Linked DNA regions of Homo sapiens: all the other regions are linked to region 3. The links come from fine-mapping of genetic effects on gene expression. A gene starts in region 3. Each other region holds a variant in brackets. All regions are shown on one strand. Distances are from middle to middle.

Evidence for each region.
Region 1: its variant is fine-mapped to the expression of KDM5B in unexposed skin (GTEx, PIP 0.93).
Region 2: its variant is fine-mapped to the expression of KDM5B in whole blood (TOPMed, PIP above 0.99).

What each region holds. Positions count from the first base shown.
Region 1 is chr1:202,072,072-202,080,249 of GRCh38, reverse strand. No RefSeq gene overlaps it. Among named protein-coding and RNA genes, the nearest start is that of GPR37L1, 47 kb to the left of the region's middle. RefSeq lists a cis regulatory region at 3,828-4,267 and enhancers at 4,139-4,986, 7,634-8,133. The variant C/T (reference allele first, on the strand shown) is at 3,127.
Region 2 is chr1:202,832,836-202,841,013 of GRCh38, reverse strand. No RefSeq gene overlaps it. Among named protein-coding and RNA genes, the nearest start is that of PCAT6, 26 kb to the right of the region's middle. RefSeq lists an enhancer at 1,718-2,266. The variant A/G (reference allele first, on the strand shown) is at 3,736.
Region 3 is chr1:202,803,883-202,812,027 of GRCh38, reverse strand. It overlaps KDM5B (lysine demethylase 5B), which reads left to right and starts at 3,607. Exons shown (of 27, transcript NM_006618.5): 1 at 3,607-3,926. The coding sequence starts at 3,723. It overlaps LOC124904583, which reads left to right. Exons shown (of 3, transcript XM_047439549.1): 3 at 469-1,790. The coding sequence ends at 993. It overlaps PCAT6 (prostate cancer associated transcript 6), which reads right to left and starts at 1,074. Exons shown (of 2, transcript NR_046325.2): 1 at 658-1,074; 2 at 116-453. RefSeq lists silencers at 978-1,207, 3,593-3,802, 3,833-4,032, 4,433-4,552, 4,653-4,722.

The DNA of each region.
Region 1 (8,178 bases), 730 kb after region 3:
TAACAATAACCACAATAATTGTTGTTAATTGTATTTTGATTGTCAGTTGCTCCAAGTAGAATATTAGCCTCATGAGGACAGAATTTTTTTTTTTTTTTTTGGAGACAGGTTTTCACTCTGTCACCCAGGCTGGAGTGCAGTGACACGGTCTTTGCTCATTGCAGCCTCAACCTCCCAGGCTCAAGTTATCCCCCTGCCTCAGCCTCCTGAGTAGCTGGGACTGCAGGCAGGCACCACCACGCCTAGCTAACTTTTGTATTTTTTGTAGAGACAAGACTTTACCATGTTTCCCAGGCTGGGAGGACAAGATTTTTGTGTTTTGTTCTCTGCTGTATCCTCAGTGCCTAAAACAGCACACAGTAGGAATTCAATAAATATTTCAATGACTATTGTTGAAAGAATATAGGAGGCCGGGTGTGGTGGCTCATGCCTGTAATCCCAGCACTTTGGGAGGCCGAGGTGGGTGGATCACGAGGTCAGGAGTTCAAGACCAGCCTGACCAAGATGGTGAAACCCTGTCTCTACTAAAAATACAAAAAATGGCCGGGCGCGGTGGCTCACACCTGTAATCCCAGCACTTTGGGAGGCTGAGGTGAGTGGATCACGAGGTCAGGAGATCGAGACCATCCTGGCTAACACTGTGAAACCCCGTCTCTACTGAAAATACAAAAAAAAATTAGCTGGGCATGGTGGCGGGTGCCAGTAGTCCCAGCTATTTGGGAAGCTGAGGCAGGAGAATGGCGTGAACCCGGGAGGCAGAGCTTGCAGTGAGCCGAGATCGTGCCACTGCACTCCAGCCTGGGTGACAGAGCGAGACTCCGTCTCAAAAAAAAAAAAATACAAAAAATTAGCCAGGCATGGTGGAATGCACCTGTAATCCCAGCTACTCGGGAGGCTGAGGCAGAGAATTGCTTAAACCTGGGAGGCGGAGGTTGCAGTGAGCTGAGATCGCGCCACTGCACTCCAGCCTGGGTGACAGAGCAGGACTCTGTCTCAAACAAAAAAAAAGAAAGAAAGAATATAGGAAAAGGGGGCCAGGCATGGTGGTTTATGCCTATAATCCCAACATTTTGGCTGGGCGCGGTGGCTCACGCCTCTAATCCCAGCACTTTGGGAGACTGAGACGGGTGGATCACAAGGTCAGGAGATCGAGACCATCCTGGCTAACATGGTGAAACCCTGCCTCTACTAAAAATACAAAAAAAAATTAGCCGGGCATGGTGGTGGGCGCTTGTAGTCCCAGCTACTTGGGAGGCCGAGGCAGGGAGAATGGTGTGAACCCGGGAGGCAGAGCTTGCAGTGAGCTGAGATCGCGCCACTGCACTCCAGCCTGGGGGACAGAGCGAGACTCCATCTCAAAAAAAAAAAACAAAAAAAACCCCAAAAACCAACATTTTGGGTGACCAAAGCAGGCAGATCATATACGGCCAGAAGTTTGAGACCAGTCTGGCCAATATGGTGAAACGTCATCTTTACTAAAAATACAAAAATTAGCCAGGTGTGGTGGTGCACATCTGTAATCCCAGCTACTCGGGAGGCTGAGGCAGGAGAATCACTTGAATTGGAAAGGCAGAGGTTGCAGTGAGCCGAGATCGCACCACTGTACTCCAGCCTGGGTGACAGAGCAGGAGTCTTATCTCAAAAAAAAAAAAAAAAAAAAGACTATATGAAAAGGAATATTAGATAAAACACATGGCCCTAGTTTCCCCATATGGAAAATGGGAAGGATTAAACTGGATCTAAGATTCCATCTGTTTCCAGGAGTCAGGCAGGCTGTGCTGGGGCGGCCTGGTTGGGCATGGAGGTGGGGCTGAGAGGGACAGTTTCCTCACAGGCTTCAGAACAAGCCTGTATGTGACTGGCAGGGTGGGGCAGGGCGTTGGGGGAGGGGCGATGGAAGGACTTTGCTAAGGATCTATCCAGAAGACTTCAGAATTCCCTGAATGAGGCAGGTCCAGATGTGGGCAGCTTCAGGTCAGGGCATGGGGGCCCTTCAAATAAACAGCAGCAGGCCGGGCGCGGTGGCTCACACCTGTAATCCCAGCACTTTGGGAGGCCGAGGCAGATGGATCACCTGAGGTCTGGAGTTCGAGACCAGCCAGGCCAACATGGTGAAACCCCATGTGTACTAAAAATACAAAAACTTAGCCAGGTGTAGTGGCGGGTGCCTGTAATCCCAGCTACTCAGGAGGCTGAGGCAGGAGAATCGCTTGAACCCAGGAGGTGGAGGGCCGAGATCGTGCCACTGCACTCCAGCCTGGGCAACAAGATTGAAATTCTGTCTCAAAAAAACAAAAACAAAAAAACTCCAAACATTTGCAGAGCACTTCCCACAGGCCACAGCCTGTCTGACCTTTCCAGACCAGTAAAGCAGGCCATCCCTCCAGCTCCTTTCCTCAAGGGCCCTTCCAGCATCATTCGGGTCTCAGGCTAAATGTCACTTCCTTGGAGTGGGCTTCTCTAATCACACCCTGTCACCCTCTAGCAATCATCCTATTTTAATTTCTCACATAGCACTTGGCATTCCCTGTGGATTCTCTGGTTTGAGGTCTGACTCCTCCATTTGAGTGGAAGTCCCATAAGGGCAGGGTCTGTCTCCTTCACCACAGCATTCTTCACCTGGGGCAGCACCCAGGGCAGCACCAGAAGACAGGTGAAGAGAAACCCTGTTTTATAGCTATGAAAACAGAAGCACAGAGGCTAAGTGTCTGGCCCAAGGTCTAACAGAGAGTCAGTACCAGAGCCAGCATCCATCCTCCCATGCTGACCCTCCTGCTCACCATGCCTGTCTCTCTGCCCTGGCTACCACATGGCAGCCAAAGTGAGTTTTTCTTCTTCTTTCTTTCTTTTTTTTTTTTTGAGATGGAGTCCTGCTCTGTCGCTAGGCTAGGGTGCAGCGGCACAGTCTCGGCTCACTGCAACCTCCTCCTCCTGGGTTCAAGCGATTCTCCTGCCCAGTCTCCCAAGTAGCTGGGATTACAAGTACACACCACCATGCCCGGCTAATTTCTGTATTTTTAGTAGAGACGAGGTTTCACCATGTTGGCCAGGATGGTCTTGATCTCCTGACCTTGTGACCCATCCGCCTCAGCCTCCCAGAGTGCTGGGATTACATGCGTGAGCCAC[C/T]GCGCCCAGCCCAAAGTAAATTTTTCAAAACATAGACCAGATTCCTTCTGACTCACCTTCCTGTGGGTTGGTTTTCTGCATATCATCATCTCCAGACTTCTTATCTAGGCCTGTCTGACTGTCCTCATCAGGCCTCTGCCCACCATCCTCTTCTCTCCAGCTTCTATTTAACCCCCAGATCATGCTCACTCCTGCCCCAGGACCTTTGCGCTGGCTCTCTCCTCTCCAGGAAGGTTTTGGCATGGCTCATTCTTATCCCCCAGGGTATTTGTAGGAAGGTCATCCTGACCACTCTAAAGCCACCCTGTGCTGTCCCCATAGTCCCTCCCCACCACAGCCCTCTTAGACTTTCCTCCATTGCACTCAGCACCCACTACAATTATTGATTTATCTTTTGTCTCCGGCTACCCAGAACACAGCCCAGTGAGAGTAGAGACCATGCCTGGTGGCATCCTCGGTGCATCTCCGGTGCCCAGAATGGTGCCTGGCACAAAGTGGGCACTCATAAAATATTTGTTAAATGAATGGATGCAGGAGTGAATACATTTGAGAAAAAGAACCAATGGGCAGGAAAGAAATGAGGTTGGAAAGGCAGGGCTGGGGGCTGAGGGTCATTTCATAGAACAAGCACAGAGGCCTGCAGGCCCAGGCGCGGACCTCAGGAGAGATGCACAGACTACCATTAAGAGACAGTGACACTGAGGTTCCTCGCGGTGCTGGGAAGTCTGACTTGAGAGTACAGTGCTGGTTATGATTATAAACTGGCAAAAGGCAAACAGGCGAGACTGGTGAGCTTAACCCAGTGCATCTCACTCCTCTTATCAAATTTCTCTGAAGCTGTTATCTCTCTGGACTTCAAACAGCTGCCTCTTATCTTCAGCCCAGCCCAAGCAGTTATCAGGTTCTAGAATAACAGCTTTCCAGGCTGCTAGGAGCAGAGCCCAGTGCCAGGTCTCCAGCCTGGCGTGAGGAAGGCCAGAGTGTGTCTTCCCTGCACTCAGCAGGGCCTATTCACTCCCAGTCCCCAGAGTCCCTCATCACAGCACAGGAAGGGTGGGAGATAGGCTGAATCTCAATGAAGCCACTTTGGGTAGGGGCGGAGCAAAAAAAAATTTCTACTCACAGTTCCACCAACCTGTTAAGGGACTGGTCCTGAGTCTCCTCTTATCACCTGAGCCACAGGTTAAAGCCTTAAATGGGACCCCTGGGACCCCAGAACATGACCCGGATGTCAGGCCTCCTCTGAGAATATCCCAGTCCGCAGCACCCTTTAGTGCCAGAAGAGAAGTTTACCGGAGAGAAGTAGGCCCTCCTATGTGCCTTGGTCTACTCTGACCTAAGAAATCACTCCTCAGCCACCCAGGACCAAGTCACCTTCAGAACTTTGAAGCCAGATGTGTGAGAGGGAGACTGAGTCACTCTGCAGGACAGATCAGGCCCTCAGGGTTCTGCCTCCTCACCATCCCGGCAGGACGCAGAGCTCCAGCAAAGTCCAGGAGGCCACAGGCTGACATCCACCTGGCCTCACTTCATACCAGGTGGTGCACTGGCCCAGGCCCCATAGACAAGGGACAGCCAGGGCCCTCCCTACACCCTGGGGTAGGGGCAGGAGCCAGGGCAGGACAACGGGCACAGCATGACATGCCCTGAAGGACTTGTGCCTGCTGCCTCCCACCGGTGCCCTCCCTCTGTTAGCTATAGAGATGTGTGTAAGTCTGAGCCATGGGAAGGCTTCCTAAGGCATCTTTAGAAGCTGGCCAGACCCCTCACTTCCTGACTTCATTCCCCCTTGAAGCAGGGGGTGCCAATAAGGAAAAAAAGCACATACAGAAGTGACATTAGCAACAGCATGTCAACACCTGTGCAGAGCAGTTTATCAGTAAACAAAGGCCAGAGCACAGGGCAGAGAGGGGAGCTTGGACTTGACCCTGTGGACAAAGGGAAGCTGTGGTGGAGCTTTAAGTAGGGGGTGGACAGCACCAGATTTGCATGTTTGAAAGACCCTCTGGCTATAATGAGTGGGGAGGAGCCACAGACAGAAGGGACAGACTTGCAGGAGGAGCTGTTAGCAGTGCAGGAGAGAAACTGACCATTTGAGAGAGTCCTCAGTACGCATGTATTTTCTCAATATAAAGACACTGGTTCGGCCAGGTGCGGTAGTTCACGCCTGTAGTCCCAGCAATTTGGGAGGCCAAGGCAGGCAGATTACTTGGGACCAGGAGTTCAAGACCAGCCTGGACAACATGGCAAAACCCTGTCTCTGCTAAAAATACAACACTTAGCCAGTCGCAGTAGCGCATGCCTGCAGTCCCAGCTATTCAGAAGGCTGAGGTGGTAGGATCGCTTGAGTCCAGGAGGCAGAGGTTGCAGTGAGCCAAGATTGTGCCACTGTACTTCTAGCCTGGGTGACAGAGTAAGACTGTCTCAAAAAAAAAAAAAGACAGTGGTTCGAGACCAGCCTGGGCAACACATAGTGAAACCCTGTCTCTAAAAATAATTAAAAATTAGCTGGGTGTGGTGGTGTGTGCCTGTAGTCCCAACTACTTGGGAGGCTGAGGTAGGAGGATTGCTTGAGCCCAGGAGGTTGAGGCTGCAGTGAGCTGTCATTGTGCCACTGCACTCCAGCCTGAGCAACTAAGAAAGACCCTGTCTCAAAAAAAAAAAAAAAAAAAAAAAAGCACTAGACCAGGCACAGTGTCTCACGCCTGTAATCCCAGCACTTTGGGAGGCCAAGGTGGGCAGATCACGAGGTCAGGAGATCGAGACCATCCTGGCTAACACGGTGAAACCTCGTCTCTACTAAAAATACAAAAAATTAGCCAGGTGTGGTGGCAGGCGCCTGTAGTCCCACCTACTTGGGAGGCTGAGGCAGGAGAATGGCATGAACCCGGGAGGCGGAGTTTGCAGTGAGCCGAGATCGTGGTACTGCACTCCAGCCTGGGCAACACAGCAAGACTCTGTTTCAAAAAAAAAAAAAAAAAAAAAAAGACACTAAAAGCCAAATTCCAAGCATGTGGAAGCTCATCAGTTGTTTTTTTTTGTTTTTTTTTTTGAGATGGAGTCTCACTCTGTCGCCCAGGCTGGAGTGCAGTGGTGCAATCTCAGCTCGCTGCAAGCTCCACCTCCTGGGTTCACATCATTCTCCTGCCTCAGCCTCCCGAGTAGCTGGGACTACAGGCGTCCACCACCACACCCGGCTAATTTTTTGTTGTTTTTAGTAGAGACAGGATTTCACCGTGTTAGCCAGGATGATCTCGATCTCTTGACCTTGTGATCTGCCTGCCTCAGCCTCCCAAGTGCTGGGATTACAGGCGTGAGTCACTGCGCCCGGCTCATCAGAAGTTTTTAACTGTTTTTGAAAAAGTCTTCATCCTCCAAAAGGCTGGGAAGGCCTCCATGTATAGGTAACACCCAAGCCCCTTCCTCAGGCCTCCAAAGCCTTCCAAGATGGGGCCCAGCCTCATTCTCCAATGCTGTGCCCTTGTTTGCACCCCAGTGTCCAGCATGAGGCCTAGCCCCCTTTGCCCAGGTAACCACAGTGACCCATGCCTCCATGCCACTGTGCAGGCTGTCACTGCTGCAAAGCATTCCCCACTCCGTCCTGTGTCTTGTTCAACGCTCAGCACAGCACCTGGCCCATGGTAAAGCTCTCAATCAATATGTGTTTTACACACAGCAGAGGTAATCACTCCCTCTACCTCCATGCGGAGTACACACCTCTAATATCGCACTTACGTTGCTCGGCAATAGCCTGTTTACTTGACATGTCCACTCAGACGGCGAGCTCTTTGAGGGCTGGGACTCTTTCATCTTTGTGTCCTCACTGCCTGGCACACAGTAGGTACTCAATAAATGCTTGTTGAATGACTGCGTAAAACCCATCTGAAGCTTCTCTAATCACTTCTGAGAAACCTTAGTACATCTATGGCCCTCTTTTTTTTTTTTTTTTTTTTTTGAGACAGAGTCTCGCTCTGTCGCCCAGGCTGGAGTGCAGTGGTGTGAGCTCGGCTCACTGCAGCCCCCACCTCTCGGGTTCAAGTGATTCTCCTGTCTCAGCCTCCTGAGTAGCAGCTGGGATTACAGGCGCCTGCCACCATGCCCAGATAATTTTTGTATTTTTAGTAGAGACGGGGTTTCACCGTGTTGGCCAGGCTGGTCTCGAACTCCTGACCTCAGGTGATCCACCTACTTTGGTCCCCCCAAAGTGCTGGGATAACAGGCATGAGCCACTGCGCCTGGCCAGGCACCTCCTGTATCTCCCTCACCACACTGCTCTGTAGCCCAGCAGTTAATCCAGGTACCTCAGACAAGTCCAGGTCCAAATCCTGGCTGCACCATTTGATGATGACCTAGCACACCCCTTGAGCCTCAGGTTTCCATTTGGTGTCCATATTCCATTAGGGAAGTGGAAGAATGCAATCAGATAATTCATGGCAAGAGTTTGGCAAATGTCAAATAAATGCCAACTTTGTTATTCTGGCCTCACCCACAGTTTTCTCACTCCCAGAATCCTAAAGCCAGCCGTTTAGTGCCTCAGAGACCTTGCTCTTAGAGAGATAAGATGCCCTAGGTGTGGCCAAAGAATAAGAAGGTCCAAAGTGAAGATAACATTTTAAAAAATGTGTAGAATAGAATGAGTAATAAGAAAAGGAAGGCTGGCCAGGGTAGCGACAGAATCAGGAGGGACCTTGAGGCTGCCTGGGAGTGCCTGTGTGTATTGGCGTGGCAGAGCCAACCGTCAAGGTCCGGCACCGGCCCGCCCAGCATCTGGGTTCTGCTGCAGCTCTTCTGGCCAAGGCTGGGTGGCCACTTCTCCCCACACCGCTCAAGGGTTCTCCTTCCTCAGCTAACTGGCTCTCCCCACAAACATGCTGTGAATTTCCTGGGGTTGCTCTCCAGTTAGGGATTGAGAGGCCTTAGACGTGAAGGGCAAAAATGTCATTAAGAACCCAGACTGGCCGCCTAGCATATATGGCATTCCCTGGGCCTCATCGTTCTTTTTTTTTTTTTTTTTTGAGACGGAGTTTCACTCTCGTCACCCAGGCTGGAGTG
Region 2 (8,178 bases), 29 kb before region 3:
CAGTTGCTCACACCTGTAATCCCAACACTGAGAGGCCAAGGCGGGAGAGAATCACTTGGGCCCAGGAGTTTGAGACCAGCCTGGGCCACATAGTGAGATACCATCTCTACACAAAATATAAGAAATTAGCTGGGCATAGTGATGCTTACCTGTAGTCCTAGGTACTCAAGAGGCTGAGGCGGGAGGATCGCTTGAGCCTGGGAAGTTGAGGCTGCAGTGATCAGTGATCAGACCATTGCCCTCCAGCCTGGGTGACAGAGCGAGACTCTGTCTCAAAAAAAAAAATTAATTAATAAATAAGTAAGTAAAAATCTTCCTACGTGAGGCGAATGTGCGGCCAGAGTTGAGAACCACTGCCCTAGGAGCCTCAGACATTTAAGGAAACAAGAATGCAGTAAAACTGTGTTGGTGCATGTTTTAAGAAAGGTTCCTCGATCTGACATTCATGGCCCAAACAAAATATAGCTTTAAAAAAGTTTGCTCGGCCGGGCACAGTGGCTCATGCCTATAATCCCAGCACTTTGGGAAGCCGAGGCGGGTGGATTACCTGAGGTCAGGAGTTCGAGGCCAGCCTGACCAACACGGAGAAACCCCATCTCTACTGAAAATACCAAAATAGCCGGACGTGGTGGCACATGCCTGTAATCCCGGCTACTCGGGAGGCTGAGGCAAGAGAATCGCTTGAACCCGGGAGGCCGAGGTTGCAGTGAGCCGAGATCATGCCGTTGCACTCCAGCCTGGGCAACAAGAACGAAACTCCGTCTCAAAAAAAAAAAAAAAAAAGGTTCCTCATTCTGACATTCATAGCCCAAACAAAATATAGCTTTAAAAAATGAAGAAATGACCAGGCACAGTGGCTCACACCTGTAATCCCAGCACTCTGGGAGGCCAAGGCAGGCAGATTATCAGAGGTCAGGAATTCGAAACCAGCCTGGCCAATGTGGCAAAACCCCGTCTCTACTAAAAATAGAAAATTAGCTGGGCGTGGTGGCACATGCCTGTAATCCTAGCTACTTGGGAGGCTGAGGCAGGAGAGTAGCTTGAACCCGGGAGGTGGAGGTTGCAATGAGCCAAGATTGGGCCACTGCACTCCAGCCTGGGCGACAAGAGTGAAACTATGTCTCAAAAGAAAAAAAAAGAAAAAAATTGCTAACTTGCCGAGGTTAAGAAATTTGAAATCAGGCTGGGTGCGGTGGCTCACACCTGTAATCCCTGCACTTTGGGAGGCCGAGGCAGGTGGATCATGAGGTCAGGAGATTGAGACCATCCTGGCTAACACAGTGAAACCCCGTCTCTACTAAAAATACAAAAAATAGCTGGGCGTGGTGGCAGGCACCTGTAGTCCCAGCTACTCGGAGGCTGAGGCAGGAGAATGGCGTGAACCCGGGAGGCGGAGCTTGCAGTGAGCCTAGATAGCGCCACTGCACTCCAGCCTGGGCGACAGAGCGAGACTCCGTCTCAGAAAAAAAAAAAAAATTTGTAATAGTGAAATAGTGTTAGGGACTCAAGTTCCTTCACCTCTTTTGAACATAGTAATTTCTTCTTGTCTCATCATTACACTGTAATTTCTTGTCCTCCCTTGCAAGAACAAGGTGGGAGTTCATTTGTTTTATTTTATTTTATTATTATTATTTTTTAGGAGTCTCACTCTGTTACCCAGGCTGGAGTGCAGTGGTACGATCTCAGCTCACTGCAACCTCTACCTCCCGGGTTCAAGTGATTCTCCTGCCTCAGCCTCCCAAGTAGCTGAGATTACAGGTGCCCGCCGCCACGCCCAGCTGATTTTTATATTTTTAGTAGAGATGGGGTTTCACCATATTGGCCAGGGTGGTCTTGAACTCCTGACCTTGTGACCCGCCTGCCTCGGCCTCCCAAAGTGCTGGGATTACAGGCATGAGCCACCACGCCCAGCTAGTTCACTTGTTAATACAGGAGGGAGAAGGGGAATCTCTAAAGTTTCTACATCCCTGTTTGTGACATCAGCACGTACTTCTACAAGCTCCAAGTGAGCTCCAGGAAACAAACCTCCCTAGCTGCCTTGGTGAATTTGTTTTTTTGTTTGTTTGTTTGTTTGTTTGTTTTTGAGACGGAGTCTCGCTCTGTCGCCCAGGCTGGAGTGCAGTGGCGCGATCTTGGCTCACTGCAAGCTCCGCCTCCCGGGTTCACGCCATTCTCCTGCCTCAGCCTCCTGAGTAGCCGGGACTACAGGCGCCCGCCACCACGCCTGGCTAATTTTTTGTATTTTTAGCAGAGGCGGGGTTTCACCTTGTTAGCCAGGATGGTCTCAATCTCCTGACCTTGTGATCCACCCACCTCTGCCTCCCAAAGTGCTGGGATTACAGGCGTGAGCCACCACACCCAGCCAAATTTGAATCAAAATAACCTGAAACTGCTGAGCACCTTTTCTGCCCCTGACTTTAAGGGAACAGAGCAAGTCTGGCAGTTAGGAAAGGGCTTGGGTCTCCTGGGGGAGCTTGCCTGAGTTCAGACTACTTTAATGGTGGTGTGAGCGAGCCGCCTGTGTAACCCCTCCATGCCTCAGTTACCCTACATGGAAAATGAAGTAGAGTCTATCACATTGCGCTGCACAGATAGAGTGCTTAGCAGTGTCGAACACCGTAATTTGTGTACCTCCTGATTTCCACCCTTCTGTGAAATGGTATTCTATTTTACTGATGAGGAAACTGGTTCAGTAATTGATCTGTCCAAAGCCTTAACAACTGGGACAGTGCTGGACTTGGACCTGTGCTCAAGCCTTTGGATTCGAGAGGCTCTGCTCTTTGCCTAACAGGGAGGGATGGGAGCCATCCTCAGGAGGTTTACTAATAGGCAAGTGATCCATCTACACAACAGCCCCAAACTAGAAACTGAGGTGACATGGTAAACAGGCCATGCGTTCTCTGGTCTCATGAAAGGGAGTCAAGAAGGAAGTTGCAAGTGACCAGAATTTTGAGTTTTGATAGGGAGGAGCAAGGAGGAAAGTCAGCTCCTGATTCCTCTGCTGGACTAAGAGCAGTTGCTGAGTCTAGTGGAGTTGGGGAGGACTGTGAATGCCACAAATTTCAGGCTAAGGAGAGTGGATGAAGAGCCTGGGGGCCTGGGGGCGGAGCTGCCTCTGAATCAGTAGCCTTTTTCTTTTCTTTTTTTTCCTTTTTTTTGAGACAGAGTCTCGCTCTGTCCCCCAGTCTGGAGTGCAGTGGCATGATCTCTGCTCACTGTAACCTCTGTCTTCCGGGTTCAAGCTATTCCCCTGCCTCAGGCTCCTGAGTAGCTGGGATTACAGGCGTGCCCCACCATGCCCGCCAATTTTTGTATTTTTAGTAGAGATGGGGTTTCACCATGTTGGTCAGGCTGGTCTCAAACTCCTGACCTCATGATCCACCCACCTCAACCTCCCAAAGTTCTGGGATTACAGGCATGAGCCACCGCGCCCGGCTGCTTTTTTCTTTCAACAAATAAAATGTCTACCGTGTGCTAAATGCCCTGCAAAGCCTGGAGATACTGTCGGCATGCTGCTCAGTACCTATCCTCAGGAAGCCCACATTCAGGGAACAGAGGTGGGCGGATGCAGACCTTGGACAGTCACACAACTCGTTGTAAGTGTGCAAAAATGAAGGTCCGAAGAGGGCAAGTAACAAGCAGCCCTGGCCTTGTGTGAAGAGTCGGGGAAGGCTTCTCTGAGAAAGATTAAAAAGCTGATGATGAGTAGTTGGTTAGATGGAGGAAGTCCGGACC[A/G]GGAAGTAGCGCATGCAGGAGACCCAGAGCAGGCATGAGCTCAGCTTCAAGAACCATGTGGGTCAGATGGTGGGAGATGAGGTTAGTGAGCTGGGTGGAGGCTGTGGTAAACATGTTTGTACCCCAAAAGCTATGGGGAAGCCATGGAAGGACTTTAAATTGGGCAATGTCCTGTGATGGATTTCTTGCCTTACAGTTCTGAACCCTCCCACACATTAGTCTCATTTGATTGCCACAGTAACCTTGTGAAGATATTACCTCCGTTTTACAGATAAAGACAGTTGGAATCCTTATTCCAATTGAAGGTCAGATGTCTGAAATTACATATCCAGACCACACCTCTGCCCCACCTCTTGCTCTTTCTCCTACCAGAGAGACACCACCACACCCAAGGGAAGTGATGATGCCTGTAGGGGACCCAGAGAGCCTGGATGGTCTCTCTGCCCCATTTCTTAGCCCTCATGGATAACAATATTGCTCCTTGCATGCACAGGGCTCCTAAAGTAGCCTAACCAGAAAAGGGAGAACTATGCCCTGAGGCCACTGGGTGGGAGAAATCTGCTCCTCCCCACCTACCTGGGGCAGGGCTGGCAACAGTGGAAATGTCCTGCCTGCCTGAGCCTGTCTGAAGCTTCCTAACAAAGAAGGAGCCCAGACCTGGTGAGGGGGCAGCCCAAAGACCAGGGCTGAGTGTGCAATTGCCCTGGAGCCCCTAGGGATACGTCAGCAGGAGCAACAGAGGCCCTTGGAATGGGCTGAAGCCTGTGGTCCCCCATGGAAGGATGTGATGGGGTGAAAGAGGGTGCCAGGCTTGACAAATGCTGAAGGCTAGGCACCTCCATCTCCTGGAGAGGGAGAGTTGAGCTGATGCCCTCCAAGTGTCTCTCATTTGCCTTACATGGAGAACTCCCTTTAGCCCCAGTGCCAACCCTGTGTGCTAGCTGGAATCCCTGTTTCATAGGTGGAGAGACTGGCTCAGAGAGGTTAAATAACATAAAATCTCTCAGCTAGTAAATAGCGCTGGAATTAAAACCCAAGTTTGAGTGGCACCACCGTCTGTGCACCTTCCTTTGAACTATAATAACCAGAGAAGAGCTTACTTATTCCCAGGGAGAGCTCCAAAGCTTCGTGGAGGAGGTGACACTGACACTGAGACCCTCCTCTCAGGTGCTTAGCACTCAGGAGCTCAGTAAATGTTTGGATGAATGAGAAACCTGGAGTAAAAAGGGTTGCTGCTGGGTCCTGGAGATGGAGAGAGGGGAAGGGAGTGGAGTGGAGTGGAGGGGAGGGGAGGGGAGGGGACGGGGTCTCAATTGCCCCAGTGGTGTGGGCTCCTCCCCAGCTCTCCAGGAGTGAAGGATTGCCTTGGCCTCTCCAGTCTCACCTGGGAAGCCAGAGCCTGTCCCGCCTTACTCAGCAGGAACCAGCTACCAAGAAACACAAATGCCTTTCACCTAAAAGGCAATTCAGGAGAACCCAAAGCAGCTGCTTTTGATAAAGGAAGGATGTGGCCAGCACAGAGGGAGGAAAAGAGGTCAGTGGGGAAGACAGCTGCCAGACAGACCTGAGGGGAACCCCAGAGGCTGCAAAGAGGATGGGGGCGGGCTGTGCTCCCACTTCATTTCCTCCTCCCACACCCCCATCAGAGCCCCACTCTTCACACTGGCCAAAGTCAAATTGCTGGTCACCAAGAAAGGAGGACACCCATGTCCCCCACAGCAGCCTGAGGCCCCCTCAGCCTTTTCCCTGGGTGAGGGAAAGCCATATCCCTGGAAGGGCAGGTCTGATGGGGTAAGAGGGGCAGGATGTTTGGGTTTCCCAGATTCATTGCATTGAGAGAGCTGGGACAGTCAGGGAAAGGCCTGGGCCCTGCTGGCAATTTGGTGGAGACTTTAGTGAGGTTGCTCAGAAGCCACCTCCCTGCGCTGGTGGGAACCTCCCCGAGACGCCCACCTTTGGTTGCATGAGGTGACCCAGGAGCTGTACCTCAGGCAGGGTCTAGGTTGTCGCAATCTGCATGAACCATGCAGACTCCAGGTAACCGGTCTCTCATATATGTATATTTTTAATCCATAAAACAGGATCTTCCCTGCAGTGTGCTTCTGAAGATTAAATCAGATAATGTATTCCTATGAGCTTTATGAACTGAAGTGACATACAAAAGCAAGGGATTATTCACTAATTCAACAAACATCCACTGAGCTCTAGCAGTGGATTTGGAGGTAAAACAGGAACCCAATGTCCAGACAAATCCAACTCAAGGTGCCCTGGGAGCTCAGAGGAGGGGCCGCTGAGCTGGCTCCTGCAGAGGAGGCAGGGATTACTAATGCAGACAAGGAGGGAGGAGGTTCCGGGCAGGGTGCGGAGAATGTGGGTGTCAGGGAGCCACCGAACACCTGCCAGGAACCACATCATCTTTTCTCCTTTTTTCTTTGGTAAAACTAGCGATGGCTAGCATTTTTCAGTGCTAAGTACCAAGCAATGTTCTAAGTATTCATTGTACTTCTCACCTCTTAATCCTCAGAGCCTGTATTCGTAACCCCATTTTACCAGATGAGAAAATGGGGTCCAGAAGTTAAAGTAACTTCCCAAAGTCACTCAGCTAGTAAATGACAGGTAAACTTTGAACCCTTTCAGACTCCAAAAGCCATGGTTTTAACCTCCTTGTTAGAAAGCCCCTTCACTTTTATTCAACTCTCCAAAAATCCTCTTAAGCAACATTTCCTTAACTTGAGGATGTCACCTTTCCTCTTTCCCAAAAACAGAATCTTAATTCCTTGAGCTTTTTGTAAGACGGTGTCCAGCTTGTGAGAGGCCAGAATGAGGTTGGCAGGGCATGGAATGAAGATTTGGAGGAAAGTGTTTATGAAGAGACCAGGGCCTAGAGTGAACCAGAAATCAGACCCAAGCCCAAGGCCCCTTAACCTCCGCATCTCACCTGTCCCAAAAAATCCAAGCAAGGAGTTGGAGGAGGACAACAGCAGCATTTATGCTCAGAGAAGCATCTTGCTTTCTGGTAACCAAGGCTGATCTCCTTGTAGAGTTCACTTCCCCCAAGGAAAATTAAGGCATGTTGTGTTTTATTTTTGTTTTTTTTTTGTTTTTGTTTTTGCTTTTTTTGAGAGAGAGTTTTGCTCCTGTCACCCATGCTGGTGTGTAATGGCGTGATCTCAGCTCACTGCAACCTCCGCCTCCTGGGTTCAAGTGATTCTCCTGCCTCAGCCTCCCGAGTAGCTGGGATTACAGTTGCCCACCACCATGCCCAGCTAATTTATTTGGTATTTTTAGTAGAGATGGGGTTTCGCCATGTTGGCCAGGCTGGTCTCAAACTCCTGACCTCAGATGATCCACCCACCTCGGCCTCCCAAAGTGCTGGGATTACAGGCATGAGCCACCATGCCTGGCCAGCAAGTTTTATCAAGCTGACTTTCTTGTCTTCCCCTGCCCTAACCCTCACTTCAACAGAAGGCAAGGCCTCCACTTTAGGGAAAAAAGAATGTCCCAGAGAAGAAGGTTTGGGGGATGGGAGGCCAGTAAGGCTCAGTCAGGCAATAAACCCCCTCCCTTCCTGGCGTTACCTTTAAGGAGAAGAGGGCCCAGGAAGGGTGGCATTCTCAGAACTTATCACCAGAGCCCCTGGGACTATGTGGTGACCTATGTTCCTTTCTTTCCTAACTGCATTTCCCCTGCCAACCCCATAATAACTTCCCTCATTGTCTATGCTCACCATTCACCTTCTTCAAGGTGAAACCCACGACCCAGCACACAAAAAGGAGGCCTATCTGGGGGACATGGCATGCCCACTTGGTTGTGTATGACTTGAACTCACATTGCCCGCATGTGAGGGCTTGGCCAGGACCTGGCCCGAACTCCACCCTAAACTCCAGGCCCCTCCAACCTTTGATACCACACCCAGTCTGTAGCAAATATAGGACTTTCTTTTGAATAATAACACTCATTGTAAATCATCTGCTGGCTCGTCCTAAACAATGTTAAGCCTCAAATAGGGTGGGTGGGTCAGTACGAGGAAAATGCCAACCTCTGAAAGTGGAGTTAATAGAATCAACAACAGATCGATTCGGCCATCTGCAGAGTAATACACGCTCAAAGGGGCTTAGTGTTACTGACAGAGATAGGGGTATGTCCCAGGAATCCGTTTAGGGGACCAGTGCTTCTGAAGCTAAAAATGATTTCCAGGAAGTTGTAACCCAATCAAGTACTTGGTAACCTGAGGCAAAACTGTTAACTCGAGAAAGCCTCCCCGGAACAGAGCAAAACAGTGGCTCGTAGTGTTTTTTTGTTGTTTTGTTGTTGATGATGATTCTGTTTTGTTTTTGTTTTTGTTTTGTAGAGGTGGGGGGTCTCACTCTGTTACCCAGGCTAGTCTTGAACTCCGGGCTCAAGCAATCCTCCCACCTCAGCCTCCCAAAGCACTGGGATTTA
Region 3 (8,145 bases):
CGTGCCTGGTGCCAAGGAGAGAGACATTACTTCTTCCCTCTAGAGGCTTACAATCTGGCAGGAGAGGAATATGTATGGGGAGAGTGCAGGGACACCGCGGAAAAAAGACAAATACTGAGTTATAAGTGTTGTAATAGGGGGTAGTAACAAGACGTTGTAGGACTACACAAAATAAAACAAGGAGGCCAAATCGCAAGCGTTTGTGGGTTTCACAGGGGACATCTGACAGCAAACATTCCAGGGCACCGAGAGATGGTGAGGAGAGATGATGGCATTGAATTGGAGAGATGAGCTGAGATGGACTGCGCAGAGGACGAGGGAAAGCCGGTGCACTGGAGACTGGGGGAGACGAGAGGATCCACCGGGTTGGGAGGGGAAGGGTGGTGGTAGAAGCACGAGCAAGGCAGAGACCGGAGGCCAGGGCGGAAGGGAGGCTCACGGACACCTGGAGCCCTGAAAAGTTGTCAGAGGCGGCGAGGGGGTGGGGAGCGGACCCTACACGTGCGCTACGTGCTGCGCCGGCCGCTGGGGAGCCCGGTCTGCCCCCCTCATCCCAGAACCCGGTCCCAGGGCAGTTGCACGGCGCCCAGGGGGAGGGGAGGGAGGAAGTCCCCCCAAGTTTGCAACCCGGCAGCGTGGTCTTCGCAACGCGGTTACCGGAAGGAACGCGAGGAGCGCCTCATCACCAGGCGGGTGTATCTAGGGGCGAAGGCTGCAGATCTGGGGCGCAGGCTGGAAAGTGGGGTGCAGCCGGTTGACGTGAGGTCTGGGAGTTGGATGGACCGAATGAGGATGGAGACACCTAGGGATGTGTCCGAAGGATCTGGCGCTGCACAAATGAGGGCGGTTTGGGGGACGGAGGCCCGGGCGGGGGCGGAGTGTTGTCCAAGAGTAAGGAGGGGGTTCCTGGAGACGTGGCACTCGGAGCGGGGCTGGGTTCCGCTCCGGCCGCCTGGGCTGCAGCTCCGCTATGGCCTAGGAACCCGAACCTGACCCCGCCTAGGCCTCGCACCCAGCCCTCTGGGAGCTCCGGCCCCGGCACCTCCAGGCTGGGGTTGCCCAGGTCCGGCCTCTGGGGCGTCCAGCCGGCCCTAGACGAGACAATGCGGCCCGGGCCCCGCCCCCGGAGGATGACGCGCCCGGCTGCCGGCCAGTCAGCGCCCGTGGCTAGGCTCTTTAAAAAAAGAAGGGCCGGCGCGGTGTGGCTGTCAGCTGGGAGGGATCCCTCCGCCCATGTAAACATCATAAAGGGCAAGGGGAGCGTCTGTTGTGGGCGGGGGAGCGGCTGCCTTCCCGGAGAGTCCTCTCGGTCCCTAGGTTCCCCTCAAGACGCCGGCAACCGCCCCGTCCCTTAACGTCACACCGGGTCTGCTGGGAGCCAAACAGCTGCGGCCTGATCTGGGAGCGATAGAATCTCATCACTTAGGGTCACTACCGGAAATGGAGGAAGCCGGACTGGGAGACCTTGAGAGTTGGGAGCGAGAGGGAATCGTAGGACGCAGCTGAGAATTGGGAAAGATTTTCTTAGGCTTGTTCTTCCTGTCCATCTCAGTTAAATAATAATCATAACTCATGTAAGTCTAGAATTTGTCTCAAAGTTATGCCTACCTGGCTCGTAGGATGCCAACGTTAGGAGTGAAAATAGTCAACGCTCTCCCGAGAGAGCACATGACACTACATGAGCTTCATCAAGACCCTCGGAGGCCCAGAATGCGCACCAAAGAGCCATCGACGATAATTCTTCTACCCAACTTTTATTTAGTATTATTAAATATTCAGTAAAGTTAAAAGAAATTTGCATCAAATTCCTCTATACCCACTACCTAGATTCTATTATAACTTGCCACATCGCATATCTATCTTGCACTGATAATTCTTTTAATAGTGTATTAGCTGTCCCCTGGGCTTGACTCTCCATTGCAGTAGGGAGCAGGAAAAGACTCCAGGTCCCAAAGCCCTGGAGAGCTAAGAAAAGGAATACGTTCTCCCAGGACCACTGTGAACTCTTTCCTGGGCCCGGTACCTCTGGGAAAAATTTGTTGAAGGGAAGGCGGTTTTCTTCTCCCCCCACGCCCATCCCCCCTTTTAATTGAAGACTTCTTAAGCATAAGAGATTTCCTTCCACTAGGTGAATCTGAAAGCGAACTAAGATCTTGACAAACATTCCTTGCATACGTTTGGCAGCTTTCTGGATGAAAGAGGTCATTTCAATGTTGACGTTCTACTTTTTGAGCTTCCTCCTTTTTTCTGAGGCTGCTGGACACTACCCCCCCACCCCCGTCCCCCGTCTCCCGCCAAAAGAAAAAAGGCGCCTCAAAAGTGTTCGTATCTCTTAAAGTTCGTTAACCTCTTTGCCTCCGTTGCCTGCTCTGCAAAATGAGGATAATATCGTACCTACTCAATATGGTGGTTGTGAAGACTCAGTGAGCTAATACATGCAGAGCGTTTAGAGCAGTGCTTTACACACAGTAGCATTAAATAGCGGCTATCACCCATAAGCACATAACTCCCAGATTTATATCTCCAATTCTGATCTCGCCCCTTCAGATTTATACCCTTCAGTCTGTTGAAGGATACCCCGTTGTGTATTTCTACCTGTATGTACCAGAGACACCTCAAATTCAAAATGTCCAGAAATGAACACAGTATCTTCTTCCCTTGAGTAACTCGCCTTCTGTATATAATTGGGGTGAATGTTCCAGCAATGCCAACGGGCTAGCATCTACTCAGGCAGGTACGCCAGACATCTGAATCTTAATACCTCGTCGTCCCCCCTCAATCTGTCACTATGTCCTAATTTTATTTCCTACCTTTGCATCCCTTCCTCATAATTATCAGCACCACTGCCTTAATTTAGATCCTATCATTCCTTGTCTGGATTATTTCAAGTCTTTCGCCCCTCTCAAGTCTGACCTCGTCATAGACTGTTTGTGGATGATTATTTTCCCTGCAACATCTCCACCTCCCAATAGTCTCCATCACTTATTAGCCATGTGAATTATGGCAAATTGCTTAACCTACCTATGCCTCACTTTCCTTATTGTAAAGTGGAAATAAGAGTACCTATCTCATAGGGTTGTGTGATTAATCATGCGATGCAATTAGAACAGTGCCTAGGATATGAAAGTGCCCCAAAATGTTACGTTATTATTATTATTACTACTATTGCCTTCTCATGAACATGCTATGTGTATGTTCAAGCTGTTATCTCTACTGGAAAATCCTTCTCCGTTTCCAATACTCTTTCCAAAACCCCCTCCTGGGTTTTACTGCACCTACCATTGTGTACTGACGTGATTGAATGATTGGCTTATGGGACTGATCCTTTCTACCAGACTTAACTTCTTCAGGGCAGGAACTCTGATACATAGTAAATGGTCAATAAAAGTTGGCTCAACTGAAACCCTAAGGATAAACTCCATCCACAGCGGAAGGCGCGGCCCCGCCCGATTCGGGGGCGGGGCGGGGAGCCGCGCGCGGAGGGTGGGTCGATGGGGGTGGGGTGGGACTCTTTTTCCTCGCCGTGGCGGCGGAGGCGCACGGCGTGGGCTTGCGGCGAGACGTCGTCGTCGGAGGCTGAAAAAGCCCAAGGTGCTGCCGTTGCCCGTACAACTCGGACTTGCTGTTGCTCGAGCCGCGTCTGCACGGGTCTCGGACCGAGCGGAGCTCGCAGCCTCGGTCCCGGAGCCCACCTTCGCCTCGCCCTTGCCCAGCCTGCGGTGATGGAGGCGGCCACCACACTGCACCCAGGCCCGCGCCCGGCGCTGCCCCTCGGGGGCCCGGGCCCGCTGGGCGAGTTCCTGCCTCCACCCGAGTGCCCGGTCTTCGAACCCAGCTGGGAAGAGTTCGCGGACCCCTTCGCTTTCATCCACAAGATCCGGCCCATAGCCGAGCAGACTGGCATCTGTAAGGTGCGGCCGCCGCCGGTGAGTCACGCCAGCACCCCGGATCCAGCTCGTGGCTGGGGGAGGGAGCGGGGACGCGCGGGTCCGGGGAGGCCCGAGGCGCGGGGGGCGGGGAGCCGGTCGCCCCGCCGGCCTCGTCAAGTTTGGGGCTGCCTAGAAGGTCGGAGTTGAGGCCGGGGGAGGAAGACGGGGGCTTCTCCAGGGTGGGAGATGAGGAGCGTGGGAGAACCGGGGGCTTCGGCGGTGCCATGGGAGGGCCGGGTCGCCGCGGGGCTCGGGCGGCCGGGTGCGGAGGTTCGGGTTCGGTTCCGGATGGAGTGATGGCAGGAGCCGGGGGTGGTCGCGGGGGAGTTTCCTCACGGAGCCTGGCGGAGGCGCGGGCTGGAGGGAGGACTGTGGGCCCGGCGAGGCTCGGCAGGCTGGTCCTCGCCTCCGCTCCCGGGGTGCGGGGGTGTGTGATGGGGTGGGGTGGGGGTGGGGGACTTGCGAGTTGTCGTGCGAGGAGGAAAGTTTTCAATATGGCGGCGGGAGCCCCTGGTCCTTTGTGTGGTGGCGGCGTCGGCCCGGAGCGGCCCTCACCTGGGCGCCCCACCCTCCAGACCAGGGCACCCCTCCACCGCCTGGTCCCCGGGCCTCCAGGTGTCCCCCGGGCCGGGGTCAAGAAGGGGGCGGCCAGCGCTGGCTGGGGGCGGGGAGGAGCCGCGGGTCCAGCCCCGGAGCGGATGTTTGTGGGGGGCGTTAGTGTCTGGGGGACACTTTTGGGGCGGCGGGGGCAGGACGGGCGGCGGTGGGCCCCGATGCCCGCCCGCGCTCCCGAACGCGCACACTCCCGGCTTCTTCTGGCTCAGCCGCTCGGCTCCCCGGGGAGGCCTGGGCTGTGCTGGTGGGGATGGGGTCCGGGCGAGGCCGTGTTTGTAGGGGAACGTCAGACGGAGAGACCTCCGAAGATTTCGTGCTCGTTTCCCCCGGCCCTCAGGCTCCGGGCACTGAAAGGCAGTCACCCACCGCAGCCCTTCCAGCCCTGTCTACAGCGCCTCGGGCCTGGGGGCAGTGAGTGAGGGGTGGGTGTTGCTGAAACCATCCGTAACGGCTCCAACGTTCGCTGAGGAGAGCCCGGCCAACTCCTTCCTCCGTGGCCGGAACTGGGTGCGCTCCTACACCCCTGTTTTTTTTGCCCACCTTTCGGGAGGGTCTGAGTCCGAGTTGGCCTAAGCGGCGGTTGGACGGGCTGGGACCGTTGGGAAGCGGGTTTAACTGCCTTTCCTGCTGTTTAAGAATCTTCTCCCCACTCTCTTCCCCCACCCCCACTTCTAAGTAGAGGAAGACCCCTTCCCACCCCTTTCTCCCTTAAGCTTGCTTTTTGTAATGACATTTTGAGTTGTAGGGATTCTGTTTGTAATCGTTATGTTTTGGAAAGCTGTTTTCAGGGAGATCCCTGAAAATAAGGCTTCTTAACCCTTCCCTGCCCCAAATTAAAACACGGACACCTACTTTAGTTTTTCTTAAGCAAGTTTGAAAATGGAGATGAAATACATGCTTCAGAAAATAACTGGCCAGCGAATATGAGGGAAATGTTTGAAAATAGATCCATTTCTTACAGCGAAGTGGGCAAGGTTGATTCTTGCTGCTTAAGGGAAGTACGTTTCTCTTAGTGCAAAGAGGCCTGCAGAAGTTATAACAGGGCTGGTTAGAGCCAAGGTTTTAATTCTTGAATAATAGGTCATGTTTCACACTGTAGTAATGTAGCTTCATGTCACATGCTAGGAAGGGTGAATATGAATATTGCACATTTGCATAATGGGATTTTATTCAGAAATTGGGTAACTTGACTAAGTTCTTAGTAACCAAAACGTGGGGAGTCAGGTTCCTGGGAGGTGTCCTCCATGTTGGTATTGTGGTATACCAGGGCTGGGGTAAATCCTTTATCTTGTTTTCTTGTTCTTTGCCTTTTAGAGGGCCCTTTTTCTGAAAAGATAGTGTTGCTCTGGTTAGGCTTGGCTACCCATTTCCTCATCTTGGCTAGAATATTAATGGTAATCTTTGCAAAATGTGTGATCGAATTGCCTTTTTCTCACTCTGAATGTCAGACAGACATGATGGCCACCATTTTGTATTGAGAGTGCTACATAGTACAGCCTGAGGAAAGGGGTTAAAGAGGCACCAATAATCTACAAATACAACCAGTACTCTGTTTGGAGACCTCCTTTGTGTGGAGGGGACTTGCTTCCTCCTTTGTTTAACAAACTCCTTTGCCAAATGGAAAGAGTTTGAGAGTATTTGTTGTTGATATAACCACAAAAAGGGAAATCTTTCCAGAAGTTGTAGCTCTTGAAGAGGGGTCTTGTTGGAACAAAGGCTTCTTAAGAGATGTAAACAGTCTTTGTTTTAGAAACTGTTTTGTTTTTGGGAAAGCTAACTGTGAACAAGTGGTTTCATATAGTTGATATATAGCAACAAAAAAACCCTTCAAGAAGTGTGAAATATTTTCCATGGTGATATATATAATGTCTGTATTTCTGGATGATTTTTGTTCACCGAGTTTTTGGAACACAAATGGTTATATTAGAAGGGGAATTGGAACTATTGGTATTTTACTTGTTAGAAGGTAAGGAGAAGTATAAAACATTTCTGTCTCCTTTTGTTCTTACCTTTGTATCTTTACCAATGGTACTTAATATAGTTTCAGTTTATAGCTGCTTTCTCAGTGAGACTCCCAAACTGCTTGGCTTCTGAAAACTTAGAGTACTTACATTATTTTGTATATGGCAGCTTAGGGGTTCTCAGAAATTTGAAAATATAGTAAGATAAATGTGAGAAAACGTGATTAAGTCAAGAAGACTATACTTCAAATCTGAGTTTGAAGTTTAATACAAACCTTTGTTTCAAATTATATCAACTATGTAGGATAACCAGGCTTGTTTTCTGGACCAAAACCTTCTTAAATTTACAATTCATCTGGCTTCTGGTTTTGTCACCTTTAAAATGCAAATTTTTAATTTCCTCCATGATACTGTACTTAGATGTCTGTTTAAGGACAAATGATATTTTTCCATATCACTTTGTGGTATTTGGAGATGAGTAATTTTAAGGGTGTAACTATTAGGCAGAAAAATAGTTGGCTGCTCAGTAAATACTTTTTTGTCTCCCAAATTTTGATAGGAATATATTTATGGCTTTAGTAACTTATTTTCTTGCTTTCAAATGTCTCACATTTGGCCATAGATAGATTCCACAAATTTCTTTTTTTTTTTTTTTTTGAGACGGAATTTTGCTCTTGTTGCCCAGGCCTGGAGTGCAGTGGCTCATCACAACCTCTGCCTCCCGACCTCAGGTGATCCATGCGCCTCGGCCTCCCAAAGTGCTGGGATTACAGGCGTGAGCCACCGTGCCGGGCCTAGATTCCACAGATTTCTTCTTTGTGTCCGGAGAAGGTTTAAATCAAACCCCAGAGGCCACAAGAGACAAAAATTTTTCAGCTTTAACTTCTTGTGGTTACTAGTTTGATTCCTTCATCTTTATAGCCAAGTGTAAAACTGCCCTTAAATGTTTTAATACAGTCACCATTTTTGAGTGAGCCTGTTGGTTCCACTCCTAGAGAAGAGGGAGGAACTTATACACTTCTTTGTATGGTAGAAGTGTTAATGATATGGAGCTCATTTACTCCCTTTCCAGCGTATCATTCTCCCTAATTTGGGGTTTGATCGACTTAGGCCTAACCCTCTCTCTGTTTTCCCTATTTCTTTGGTGTCATGAAATCTTTCCCTACTTGTATCTTTGGCCACTTTAAGCCTTTAACGTTTAGAGAAGAGGCTTATCAGTAGAAACATCCTTGAGCAAAGGAAGAACTTATAACTACTTAAAAAAAAAACCCTTTTATTGAAATATACCATACAATTCACGAATTTATGATGTGTAATTCAGTGGTTTTTGATATTTTCAGAGTTGTACAACCATCACCACAATCAATTGTAGAACATTTTCATCTCCCTCAAAAGAAACCCTGAACTCACTTGTAACTACTTTTTTTTTCCTTTTTTTAAATTATACTTTAAGTTCTAGGGTACATGTGTACAACGTGCAGGTTTGTTACATATGTACACATGTGCCATGTTGGTGTGCTGCACCCATTAACTCATCATTTACATTAGGTATATCTCCTAATGCTTTCCCTCCCCCCTCCCCCGACCCCTAACTACCTTTTAAGACAAATTTAGGACTATAATGCCCAGGAGAAAAACCT